Linked DNA regions of Homo sapiens: region 1 is linked to region 2. A link means that fine-mapping ties the variant in region 2 to the expression of a gene that starts in the linked region. Tissue or cell type: whole blood. Region 2 holds a variant in brackets; the other region holds the start of a gene. All regions are shown on one strand. Distances are between the middles of the regions.

Region 1 (5,762 bases), 37 kb after region 2:
AGGAAAGTGTAAAGTGTGTTTGGTTATGGGAATACCCTATGAAAAACCCAAAGGGTGAATTTTTATGAGAAAATAAAAGACTGACTTCACCAGAAAAGACTTTTTACATTAAAATGAAGTAGAATGAAATACAACATTGAACATGTCATATTGAGAGGCAAGATAATTGGGACTTGACCTGAATTGGGAGTGATGTGTCCTATGTTACACCAAAATCTGCCACTGATGAGAGTGATCAGTCAGTTAACCTGGGGTTTCAGATTCAATAATAGATGAGCTGAAAATAATGAAGGGAGGATTCATGCAGAAGCACGTTTTCTCAGAAGAAGGAATGTGTATGACTCAAAGTCCAAATAGGAGTATTATATTGGATCATCTTTCTTCTGGAACTTTGAGCCAGGATTAAAGGATAGCTGTAAAGTCAAGGAGATATTCTGATGCAGAAATCAGTTCTCACAACATCTGATTGATGTCTGATGTCTCACAACATCTCTTTAGTCTATTTTTAAAATATATAATTTTCTTTGCAGTAAGTATTGCGACATATATTTCCATTCTATAGAAGGGGAAGCAAAACTTCAGGAGTTTTTGAAGTAGGAAAGGTTAAAGCAGGAGGATTGAGCCAAGAGAGTCTGAGGACAATCGTAGGAGTCCTACTCTTCATTTGGCACAAAAATGACAATGCTTAGTTAGGCAGAAGGTGAGTATGGATTGTATAAACTAAGAACTGGAAAAGACTTTGCAGTTCAAGGAATCCTTAGCTCTGTCTCCAGGCTAGACAAAATAAGAAATAAAAGCTATCACTTCTGTGTGGTGCTTATAGAATAGAATTAACATATCAGCATTATGGGATCTTTAGGGTGTCGCTTTCCTGGCCAGTCTAGTGGCACCTTTGCCTGAGTTTTGCTCTGGGCCCACTGGGCTGCTTCTGCCCACTCGCACTTGCTACCAACCTGGATCCCGGATCCAAGGGAGATTGAGACGGGTGGAGCAGAGGGGTGTGCTAGGGGTGTGTGAGCAAGCGTGGCCACTGTGCAGTCACACACACAAGCTGCTGCCCAGGTTGGGCAGCTCCAGGTGCCAGCACAGGCTCTCCATGAGGTGGCTGGACCAGGCACACAACAAACAGCTTCCCCCTGGACCAGGCGCATCACAAGCAGCTTCCAACAGTGGCACTGGCGAATGCAGTGACGCCAACCAGGGCCCCAAAGAGGGAGTCACAGCCCGGGCTCAAGGAGCTCCCAGGTCTGGGCTTCTCCGAGGGCCAGAGCTCTTCTCTCCCTGTGGGGAGCAAGGGGCATGTTGCAGCCCTGTTTGTGTTACAGCTCTTTTAACCTTGCTGTGCAGCTCCTCAGCTCCTGCATCAAGCAGACAAGTGGAGAATGAGACAGATGAAGAGGAGCATTACTGAGCAATGGAACAGAAGGATAAGGAAGATGAAGAGGAAGGAGACCTGCAGTTAGTAGCTCATTTCCACAGTAAGGATGTCCTTTCCACAGCAAGGGTGTCCCAACGAGTGTTCAGCTTCTAGCAGAACGGAGACCCTGGAGTGGCTGGCTCCTCTCTGCAAACAGGTCTTCCCATTGAGTGTTCAGCTTTCAGCAGAGAGGAGGTTCTGGAATGGGTAGTTTCTCTCCACAGGTAGGTCATCCATTGTCTTCCCATCCTCTCTTCCAATCTAGCTGAGTCTGGGGGATTTTATGAGCCTCAGAGGGAGGAAATGCATGCTGATTGGTCCATGGGCAGCCATGAGTGGGCCCAGGGAGCAGCACCACAAGTTACCTCTCTGGTCTGCAGGCTTCAAGCCCTCACCAGCTTGAGGGTGGGACTTCACTGGGGACCCATCCCCTTCCACCCAGGAACCTGTCTGCCTCCTGCTCCCAGGCTGTTCATGCCAAGGAGCGCCTGCAAGTCAGTGTCCAGCTGTCTTCAGACCCCTCTCAGCCTCCCTCCCACGCTTGTTGGTGCCCAAGTTCCAAAGGGGGCCGAGACGGCAGGGGGCTGGCGTATCAGCACTGTCCTGAGCGTGTGCACGCTCGGCCAGGCTGTGACAGTACCCAGGCTCGGCCCGACCTTGCTCTGAGTTCAGAGTGGGTGCTAACAGTGGAGAGAAGCCAGGCAGCCGGAGTAGGCACCCTGGAGCCTGCAGTGGGCAGGGGACTTTGCTGGGCCTCTGAGAGCACAGAAAATGTCCACAGCCGCGGCAAGGTGGCTGCAGCTGCACCCTGGGAGCTCCTGCTCCACCAGTTCGGAAGGGGCGGGGCTCCTGCTTGTCCCTGGCTCACCTGCTCCTGAGTGTGCAGGTCCGGTGGCGCCTCCTTGCAGGCTGGGCTGATGGGCGGGGGCGGGGGGGGGGGGGGGGAGGAAGGGAATGTTCCAGGTCCTCCCTGGGCCCGGGACTGTGTCCGGGGCAGGGATGACGTCGCTGCAAGTTCTTCCCGTGGCCCCGGGGCTCAGGGGCAGCCCAGGACTCTCCCTCGCCCGGCTCACGGCCCTGCCTGGGGGGCGCCTCCGGGAGCAGATCACGAGCCCTGGGGCTCAGCCCTCAGGCGCGTCTAGCTCGGCGGTCACCCCAGTGCCGGGAGGACCCTGAAGACGCGCCCCAGGCGGCCCTACTCAGAGCCTCCTCCCAAGGCCCAGGAATGCGGCGCTGTCGGAGGTGTGCGCGGTGGCCACACCGCTGTCCGGGTCCCCAAAGCGGGCCCCGCTCCCACTTCTCGCCTTGGCCCCGAACCCTGGGTCCAGCCCCAGCGCTTTGTGTGCGAACACCGCTCCGCCCCGGACCCAGCTCCGCCTTGGGGCCCCTCTCTGCCTGCCCCTCCGTGCCCGACTACACTGCTTCCCCTCCGGCGGGCGACTCAGCCCGGTCCATCGTGGCGGCTTCCAGGGCGGCAGGCTCCGGGAGTACTCCCGGGGCCGGCTCCAAGGACTGTTCCCCTCCTCCCCACTCCCACTCCGCGGCGGCGGCGGGCGAGAGCGGCGACATAGGGCCAGGGTCCGGAGCGGTGGAGGCTCCTGGCCGGGGAGCACGTCGCCCCACCCGGCAACGCGAGGATGGTGGCGGCGCAGTCGGCTGCTTTGGGGTCTCAAGGCACAGGGGACGCGAGGCACAGATGTCCCACAGCAGCCACTGCGGCTCCCGCAGCTGCTCCGCCGCCGCTGCCCGCCCCTCCCTGCTGCAGCTGGCGTGATGGCAGCGGCAGCTCTGGACGCCCCACTGCTGCCACCATCAGCCTTGTGAAATAGGTACTACCTTAACAAATGAAATTGAAGCAGAGACATGTAATTTGCCCAAAGTTACTAAGTTAGTGACAAAGCTAGAATTCAAGACCAAGAAGTCTAGCTTCCATGCTCTTAACTTCCAACCATGGTGACACCTCAAACAACTTCAGACAAAAAGGCCAGGAGAAAGTATATTTCAGAGCTTAATAAACATTATAATTAGCTGTCAAATTAAGTATCAAGCCAGGGCACAGAACATAAAAGAAATCAGAGTATGGCTATGGGAACAAGACAACAGGATTATAATTTTACCTCTTGGTTCTAGTTTTTTTCTTTGTTCATATGGAAATCGTTACTGAAAAGGTACTTTAAGGATATGCTTGTTGCAAATCATTAGCTGTATCACTGACCAAGAGTGTTTATTCCTGAAATACTAACTGATTGCCTACTATCTGCCAGGCACAATATCCCATGCTATAATACAAAATTAAACAAAATAGGATTCCTCCCTTAGAAAAACTCACCGCAGAGTAAAAGAAAAAGATACACATCTGGGTCATTATAATGATCAGGTGCTCAAGCTATTCATTGCCCCAGTGGACTGGAGATACAATGGCCTTCTCAAGTTTTGGGGTATTACACTCAAATTCATATGTAATACTGGAGAAAAGGCCTAATTACAACTTAAACTGGATTTCCCACCAGCCTGGTGGCATGGGAATCTTGGAATTAAAATTACGTAGAATTTTTAAAAGTGATGTATCTTCTACATCTGATTTTGTGAACTGAAGTTTATTCTTTCCAGGAAAGCATATAGATACACGACAGGAAATGAAATGGATACTTGTTGGGGTCAGTTTTATGTATAGTTTGTATTTTATTTTGAAATATGATACACTGCTATTCTCTTGCATTTTCTTATATGTGACTCACCACTAACCCTATATTCCCCCATTTCAGGCCAGTTGGTCATAAGCATCCATTTGCCTCAGAGAATACTGGGTTGTTATGACAAGAATATAAAGTTGGAAAGAAATAGAATATTTGAGTCTACCCTGTAAGAATAAAAAGAATAAAAGGGGTTTAAATTTATTTAGACCCTATTGTTTAATCAAGAATTCTGGCCAGGAGCAGTGGTTCATGCCTATAATCCCAATGCTTTAGGAGGCCAAGGCAGGAGGATCATTTGAGGCCAAGAGTTTGAGACCAGCCTGGGCAAATTATTGCTCGGGAAAAAAAGGTCTTATTTAGTATTTTAGTCTTTACAATGTTTTTTTCTATTATGCAATATTCTCTCAAATACTTTATGTCCATCCACGTTGTCTGAGACATGCCACTTTAACATTCTAGTTATGCTGTAGCTGTCATTTTACCCTAAGCCGTTAGTAGTACTGATCCACATAAAATTGGGCTGTTTAGGTGTTTAACTGTTTAAATGTATAATATATCTGATATATTTATATATTGTATAAAAAATCACCTAACACAATAGATATTTACTATGTCTGCTATAAATATATATCATATAACATATAACAATATATTATAAATGATAATATACTATAATATAAAATATAATAAATATATTATAAATGTACAATATATCCGATATAAATATATAAATATGTCAACTATATTATACATATAAATGTATATGTATAATATATACATATATGTATAATACAATGTATTTATTATGTATATATATAAATGTATATGTATAATATATAAATGTATAATATATCTGATATAAACATATCAGATATATTATCCATCTATTGTGTCAGGTGATTCTTTATACAATATATAAATATATCAGATATATTATCCATCTATTGTGTCAGGTGATTTTTTATACAATATATAAATATATCAGATACATTATCCATCTATTGTGTCAGGTGATTTTTTATACAATATATAAATATATCAGATATATTATCCATCTATTGTGTCAGGTGATTTTTTATACAATATACAAATATATCAGATATATTATCCATCTATTGTGTCAGGTGATTTTTTATACAATATATAAATATATCAGATACATTATCCATCTATTGTGTCAGGTGATTTTTTATACAATATATAAATATATCAGATATATTATCCATCTATTGTGTCAGGTGATTTTTTATACAATATATAAATATATCAGATATATTATCCATCTATTGTGTCAGGTGATTTTTTATACAATATATAAATATATCAGATATATTACATATCTATTGTGTCAGGTGATTTCTTATACGATATATAAATATATCAGATATATTATCCATCTATTGTGTCAGGTGATTTTTTATACACTATATAAATATATCAGATATACTATACAGTTCAGCCCATCAAAGCACCATATTTTGGGGGGTTGGTTTCCGTGTCCCAACACTAGCTACGAAAATATTAGCTATTAGCTACCTATAACTCTTCAGTAGTAAATTCAAGAAACGTAAAGTAATTCTCTTCATTAAGTTCTTGCCTTGTCTACTAAAAAAATGGTCATCACCGATGTGGACAATGAAGACCTGTGG
Region 2 (6,544 bases):
ATGGTCCACTCCAAAATAGGTGTTTGGGGCACAAATAAATTTAGTTAATAGATTAATAGATTAAAATATTTCATTATCATATTACTCTAGTGCTCTGTGACTCTCTAAGAGTTATATATAATAATACACAGCACTTCCAAAATATCTAGAAGACATTTTTCAGGTCACTCTTGTTATTATCCCTATCACTCTCTATCCCTTCACACTGCTCTGTTTTTCTTCTTAGGATTGATTACTACTAAATTAGTGTATGTTATGTATATATTTATTTAGCATCTATCTCTTTCACTAGACAGTAAGCTCTGTGATGGAAGAAACTTCGTTTTTTTTCACTGCTGTGTCCTCAGTGCCTGGAACCATGTTCAACATAGAGGAGGCACTAAAAAATGTGATAAATGAATATGTTTGGTGCCTATTAGTTATTACCAATATAACTAATCCACAGCTTTTAATCTTCAGGTGCGCCTAGTAGATGGGAAAGGCGTCCCTATACCAAATAAAGTCATATTCATCAGAGGAAATGAAGCAAACTATTACTCCAATGCTACCACGGATGAGCATGGCCTTGTACAGTTCTCTATCAACACCACCAATGTTATGGGTACCTCTCTTACTGTTAGGGTAAGTTTGGAAAGAAATTACCAATGACATGAAGTAGCCTTGGAAACAAGGTTGCAACCTAAGGGTGAGAAAATTTCCAAACTGTGTCTAGTTCTATGGAGAGAAAAAAACTAGCAATTAGAAACCGATTGAAGGTTAACTTTTTTAAAGTTTATGAAAAGAAGGCAGTATATTGTGATTAAAAGTGCGGGTTAGACTTTAGCAGTGTTGCTGGGAACGTAAAATGGCGGAGCCACTATGAAAAACAGTATAGTAGTTCCTGAAAAAATTAAAAAATAGAATTACCAAATGATCCAGTAATCCTACTTCTGGACATATATTCAAAAGAATCGAAAACGGGGTCTCAAAGAGCTATTTGCACACCCGTGTTCATAGCCGCACTATTCACAATAGCTGAGAGATCGAGGCTACCCAAATGTCCATCAAGGGATGAACAGGTAAACAAAATGTGGTATATAAATACAACAGAATATTATGCAGCCTGAGAAGGGAAGAAAATCCTGTCACATGCTACAGCATGAATGATCCTTGAGGACGTTATGGTAAGTGAAATAAGCTAGTCACAAAAAGACCAATACTGTATGATTCACGTACATGGGGTTTCTAAAGTAGTCAAAGTCATAGAAACAGAAAACAGGATGGTGGTTGCCAAGGGCTAGGGAAAGAGAGAAATGGGGAATTCCTCTTATTGGTATTCAGGTTTAGTTTTACAAGATGAAAAGTTCTGGAGATCTGTTGCACAACAGATATACTTAATACTACCAAACTGTACACTAAAGAATAATGAAGATGGTAATTTTATGTTGTGTGTGTGTGTGTGTTTATAATAACTTTTTTGAAAAGTGTGAATTCCAGAATCTGAATCAGATAAAGTGGTTAAAAATACTGGCTCAACCCTATTTTAAGGAATTAACTAAAACCTCTGTGCTTCATTTCCTTATCTGTAAAATGATTGCAATACTAACACCTGACTCTTGGGGTGGTTGTGAAGATTAAGTGAAATCATACATGTTGAATCACTTAGTAAGCCCCCTTTAACTGTTAGATACTTTTACTATAAAAGCCAATTCTAACATAATTAGCATTTAGTTTTAAATATATATACTCCAAAAATTATTACCTTACTTTATTTTGTCTTGCTATTCTAATTTTCTCCAGATGACCTGTTCATACCAATATAAGTTATTCGGTATAGCATGCAGTCCTCTATTCATCAAGAGAGATGTAGACATGTCTATAGATACATGGATATACAATACATATTTAATATATATTACATAATCATGGTAATGGAAAACGCCTGCCTCTTTAGAGTTTTACCTTGTTATAGAGAAATAAATAATACATTTTATTTATTTAGCTTTAATAGATGGCATAAAAGCACCTCCCTCTAATTTGAATGTTTACTCATTTCAAAAAGTGTCTTGAATGCTTTCCACGTGCCAGCACTGTGCTAGTCTTGACAATGAAATTATTATTTCTACCTGTTCCCTGTTTGGGGTGATCATATATGTGTTGTCACCAAAATATACATTAAGATATGAACAAAATGTTTTGCTCAAGGATTCACTAGTGCTATTGGGAGCTGGGGATGAAGGTAGAGGAAGCCTGAAAGGAGCTAAGGAATAACTTCTACAGGAAGAAAAGTTGGAAATATAACCCAAATAGGGCCTCTGAGGTATTAGAATCCAGATTGCAGGGAGCATTAAAAATAGTCAGCCTAGGCCAGGCACGGTAGCTCACGCCTGTAATCCCAGCACTTTGGGAGGCTGAGGTGGGTGGATTGCGTGAGGCCAGGAGATCGAGACGAGCCTAGGCAACGTGGTGAAACCCTGTCTCTACAAAATATACAAAAAATTAGCTGGGTGGGGTGGCATGCACCTGTAGTCCTAGCAACTCAGGAGGCTGACTGGGAGGATCACTTGAGCCCCAGAGGCAGAGATTGCACTGAGCCAAGATTGTGCCACTGTACTCCAGCATGGGCGCCAGAGCAAAACCCTGTCTCAAAAAAATAATAATAATAGCAATCAGCCTAAGATAGCCCAGAAGAGGTAGACTTCAGCTAATTCATCAGCTCAGCTCTTAAACCAATGCTTTCTACCAATGTCTTCTCAGACCCCTAAGGTTACAATATTTTATTTATTCATAATACCCATTCAAAATCCACCCTAAAAGAGGCAGCTGCTTTCTGAAAGCACAGTTCTTCCATTTCTAGAGATTATTTACTCTCCTCAATGAAGTTTCATAGCTCCAGTGTCTCTAATTGCACAGGTAAAGCAGTCAAAGAAATTTCAAGCAAGCTAATCAGAGCAAAGGATGCCTCCTTTTATGCTCTTAAGAAATATAAATCTCAATCCCAGGAGGCTCTGCAGTGTAAAGTCACAAAGCATGCCTACATTTGAAGCAGAGAAACAAAATCAGGGGTCCTTCTCCCACTTTTCATTGTGGAACAAAAGATTTCTAGCTACTAGTTAAGGTAGGACAGTAAACTTACGTAGTTTTGTGAGAACATTAATCTTTATGACGTATAATCTAAAAATAATATAATTTTTCTAATTCATTAGGTCAATTACAAGGATCGTAGTCCCTGTTACGGCTACCAGTGGGTGTCAGAAGAACACGAAGAGGCACATCACACTGCTTATCTTGTGTTCTCCCCAAGCAAGAGCTTTGTCCACCTTGAGCCCATGTCTCATGAACTACCCTGTGGCCATACTCAGACAGTCCAGGCACATTATATTCTGAATGGAGGCACCCTGCTGGGGCTGAAGAAGCTCTCCTTCTATTATCTGGTGAGAAGGGAGGTTACTGCGTTGACTTCACTGTAGACAAAAGCTCTCTGTGGAGCAAGTAATCATGAAGCTCTTTAGATGTCATTACTTCAACTTCTTATCCATGTTCCTTTTGAAAGTTTGATTTCTCTTGAGGTGAATTATTGCC[G/A]GCAGGGACTCAATAAAACAAGTATATTGAAGTGAGACTGAAGCGTGTTCTCTCTGGCACATTTAATTTCTTTTTATTTCCTTTTTTGCAGATAATGGCAAAGGGAGGCATTGTCCGAACTGGGACTCATGGACTGCTTGTGAAGCAGGAAGACAGTGAGTATTTCCATCATCTCTGCATTGCTGCCCCATTCTGACCCATTCAGCCTTACACCACGGAAGTATCAGAATACTTTCCCTTTTTTTCCATAGGTTTTTGGGGGAACAGGTGGTGTTTGGTCACATGAATGAATAAATTCTTTGGTAGTGATTTCCGAGATTTTGGTGCACCCATCACCCGAGCAGTATACATTGTACCCAATTTGCAGTCTTTTATCCCTCACCCCCTTCCACCCTTCCCCCTGAATCCACAAAGTCCATTGTATCATTCTTATGCCTTTGCATCCTCATAACTTAGCTCCCACTTCCTAATAGCTTAGCTGCCACTTCCTAATAGCTTAGCTCCTACTTCTGAGTGAGAAGATATGATGTTTGGTTTTCCATTCCTGAGCTGGGAATATCAGGAATACTTTCAAGTAACGAGAGACCATTTCCATCTAATATTAATTAAAAGAAAGTTGAGGGAGGGAAAACAATAATGGTTTTTTTCTCACCCTTTATCAAATATGTGTTGTCTTTTTTTTCAGCCTATTTTCTTTGCGTTATTTAAAATATTGGTGTGGGCCAGCTATGATGGCTTACGCCTGTAATCCCAGTACTTTGGGAGAACGGGATGGGAGGATCTCTTGAGGTCAGGAGTTTGAGACCAGCCTGGTCAACATAGTGAGACCCCATCTCTATAAAAGTAAATAAATAAATAAATAAATAAATAAGAACAAAGGGGGAAAAATAAAATACATAAAATATTGTTGTGTATAATCTATGCTTATTCCAGATTTTTAAACCATAAATATTCTTGAACCTCTTCTCAAAATGAGAATTGTGTTAGAGAATGGGGTGGAGAAAATGTACGATTTCAAGGTATGTTGTATATACCAGGTCTTGTGCTGAGTCATTTATGTCATTTATATTATTATAAATATCTTTTTTCCCTTTCAAGATAGTTATGATTTATGAAGCATTAAATTGGGTACTTCTACCGACTGAAGCGGACTCTTGCCATGAGCAAATATGTCATAATATAAACCTTTGAAGGTTGCTCCTAGTCTAGTAGACTCTAAAAGATAACTTGCTAGAAAAGTATCAGTAATCTACTCTCTCATTAGTTCTTGTAGCAACACAGAAGCACCATAGCAGACTGAAGGAAACTTAATGCAACCTCTAAAGAATCTACATAGGCATCAAAAAATAACTTCTGAAGGAGCATGGTGTTCCTCTTATGGAGAAAGAACCAAATATTGGCTCATAGAAGGTTAAAGAGCATGTAGCATGAATACAATGTGTTGAACTCTTACTCTTACATCTCATAACTTCAGGTTCTATTTCCCTCTTCTAGTATGAGGCCTAGATCAAATGGTAGTGAATTGGATGTCTTCATACCCTTAACTAGCATCAGAACATTAGGTGGGTGAGCTGAAGCTTAAAGCTGGTGAAAAATCAACAGAGTATATGATTTATGAGAGGAGAGAGGGCTTTGATAGGGTTTTTTTCTAAAGCTAGAGTCCTTAGAGGTAATCATCCATTTGTTACATCTACTGTTTATTATGTCTGTTACATCTACTAATGGAAATAGTCATTAACCTATGATGGCTTCCTCTCATTCTCTTTGTGCCCCAGTGAAGGGCCATTTTTCCATCTCAATCCCTGTGAAGTCAGACATTGCTCCTGTCGCTCGGTTGCTCATCTATGCTGTTTTACCTACCGGGGACGTGATTGGGGATTCTGCAAAATATGATGTTGAAAATTGTCTGGCCAACAAGGTGTGTGTTTTAGATCATAAAATCTTCAACATGTAAAACTAGAAGTTACTATTGTTATCATTTGTTTTACACATGTGAACATTAGGGCCAAAAGGGTTAAACAAATTCCCCAGAGACATTCAGCAAGGTAGTGGCAGAGTCACACTAAGAAGCAGAATCACTTGATTCCTTATACAAAACTCTCAAACTTCTCCTAGCAGTGCCTCTTACCAATTACACAGTTCAGAGTATGTTATTCCCTTCTTCTATGATGAAACGTTGGGAAATATGTAAGCAAGTTTTTAAGACTACTAAGGAGCCAAAAGAAAAATGCAAGAGCACCTAGACCCATGCATGTCCCACCACAATTAATGAGCACCTTGCCGTGTATCAAAGATAAAAATGGCATTTCATGACTAGTAATTTATAAGAATAATTAGAAATAATTCTACTGGCTCAAGTGATTCTTGAGAATGAAAGAGAAGTGTAGGGAACAAAAAGCTTCAGGATTGACACAATGCCAACCCTCCACGAAGTCAAGCAGAGTGGTTATACATTGTACATGAGGAACACTCTGCAAATGCGAGTGAATGCATGGGTAAACCTGGAAATTTGCTTTTCTGACCTTTTGTTCCAATTTCACAGGTGGATTTGAGCTTCAGCCCATCACAAAGTCTCCCAGCCTCACACGCCCACCTGCGAGTCACAGCGGCTCCTCAGTCCGTCTGCGCCCTCCGTGCTGTGGACCAAAGCGTGCTGCTCATGAAGCCTGATGCTGAGCTCTCGGCGTCCTCGGTGAGTTCCTGGCAGCCTCAGGAATCAAGAAGGGCCGTGCCAGGGGCTCAGAGCAAGGAAAAATGACTGGATAAGTAGGATAAGATCAATTAAAATTATATTTATCTAGGAATTAATTGCTTTGAGCTCTCTTGTGGGCTTTCATTGGTAAGGAATTATATATATATATATATATAACTACTCACTTCTGCAGTTAAAAAAATAAACAAAATACAATATATTGAATCAAATAAAAGAATTTTTAAAAGGACAAAATGTGATGAAAATTAACAACCAAAAAAGGACTCGTTA

Evidence for each region. PIP is the estimated chance that this variant, and not a neighbour inherited with it, causes the effect.
Region 1: it holds the start of A2M-AS1, and the variant in region 2 is fine-mapped to the expression of A2M-AS1 in whole blood (TOPMed, PIP above 0.99).

What each region holds. Positions count from the first base shown.
Region 1 is chr12:9,061,752-9,067,513 of GRCh38, reverse strand. A2M-AS1 (A2M antisense RNA 1) reads right to left here and starts at 2,337. Exons shown (of 2, transcript NR_137425.1): 1 at 2,286-2,337; 2 at 1-1,688. It overlaps LINC00612 (long intergenic non-protein coding RNA 612), which reads left to right and starts at 2,444. Exons shown (of 3, transcript NR_034140.1): 1 at 2,444-3,246. It also overlaps a transcript of KLRG1 not described here. RefSeq lists silencers at 2,949-2,998, 3,059-3,108.
Region 2 is chr12:9,098,316-9,104,859 of GRCh38, reverse strand. It overlaps A2M (alpha-2-macroglobulin), which reads left to right. Exons shown (of 36, transcript NM_000014.6): 11 at 460-621; 12 at 3,186-3,413; 13 at 3,653-3,716; 14 at 5,337-5,479; 15 at 6,104-6,253. It also overlaps a transcript of KLRG1 not described here. Among named protein-coding and RNA genes, the nearest start is that of A2M, 14 kb to the left of the region's middle. The variant G/A (reference allele first, on the strand shown) is at 3,562.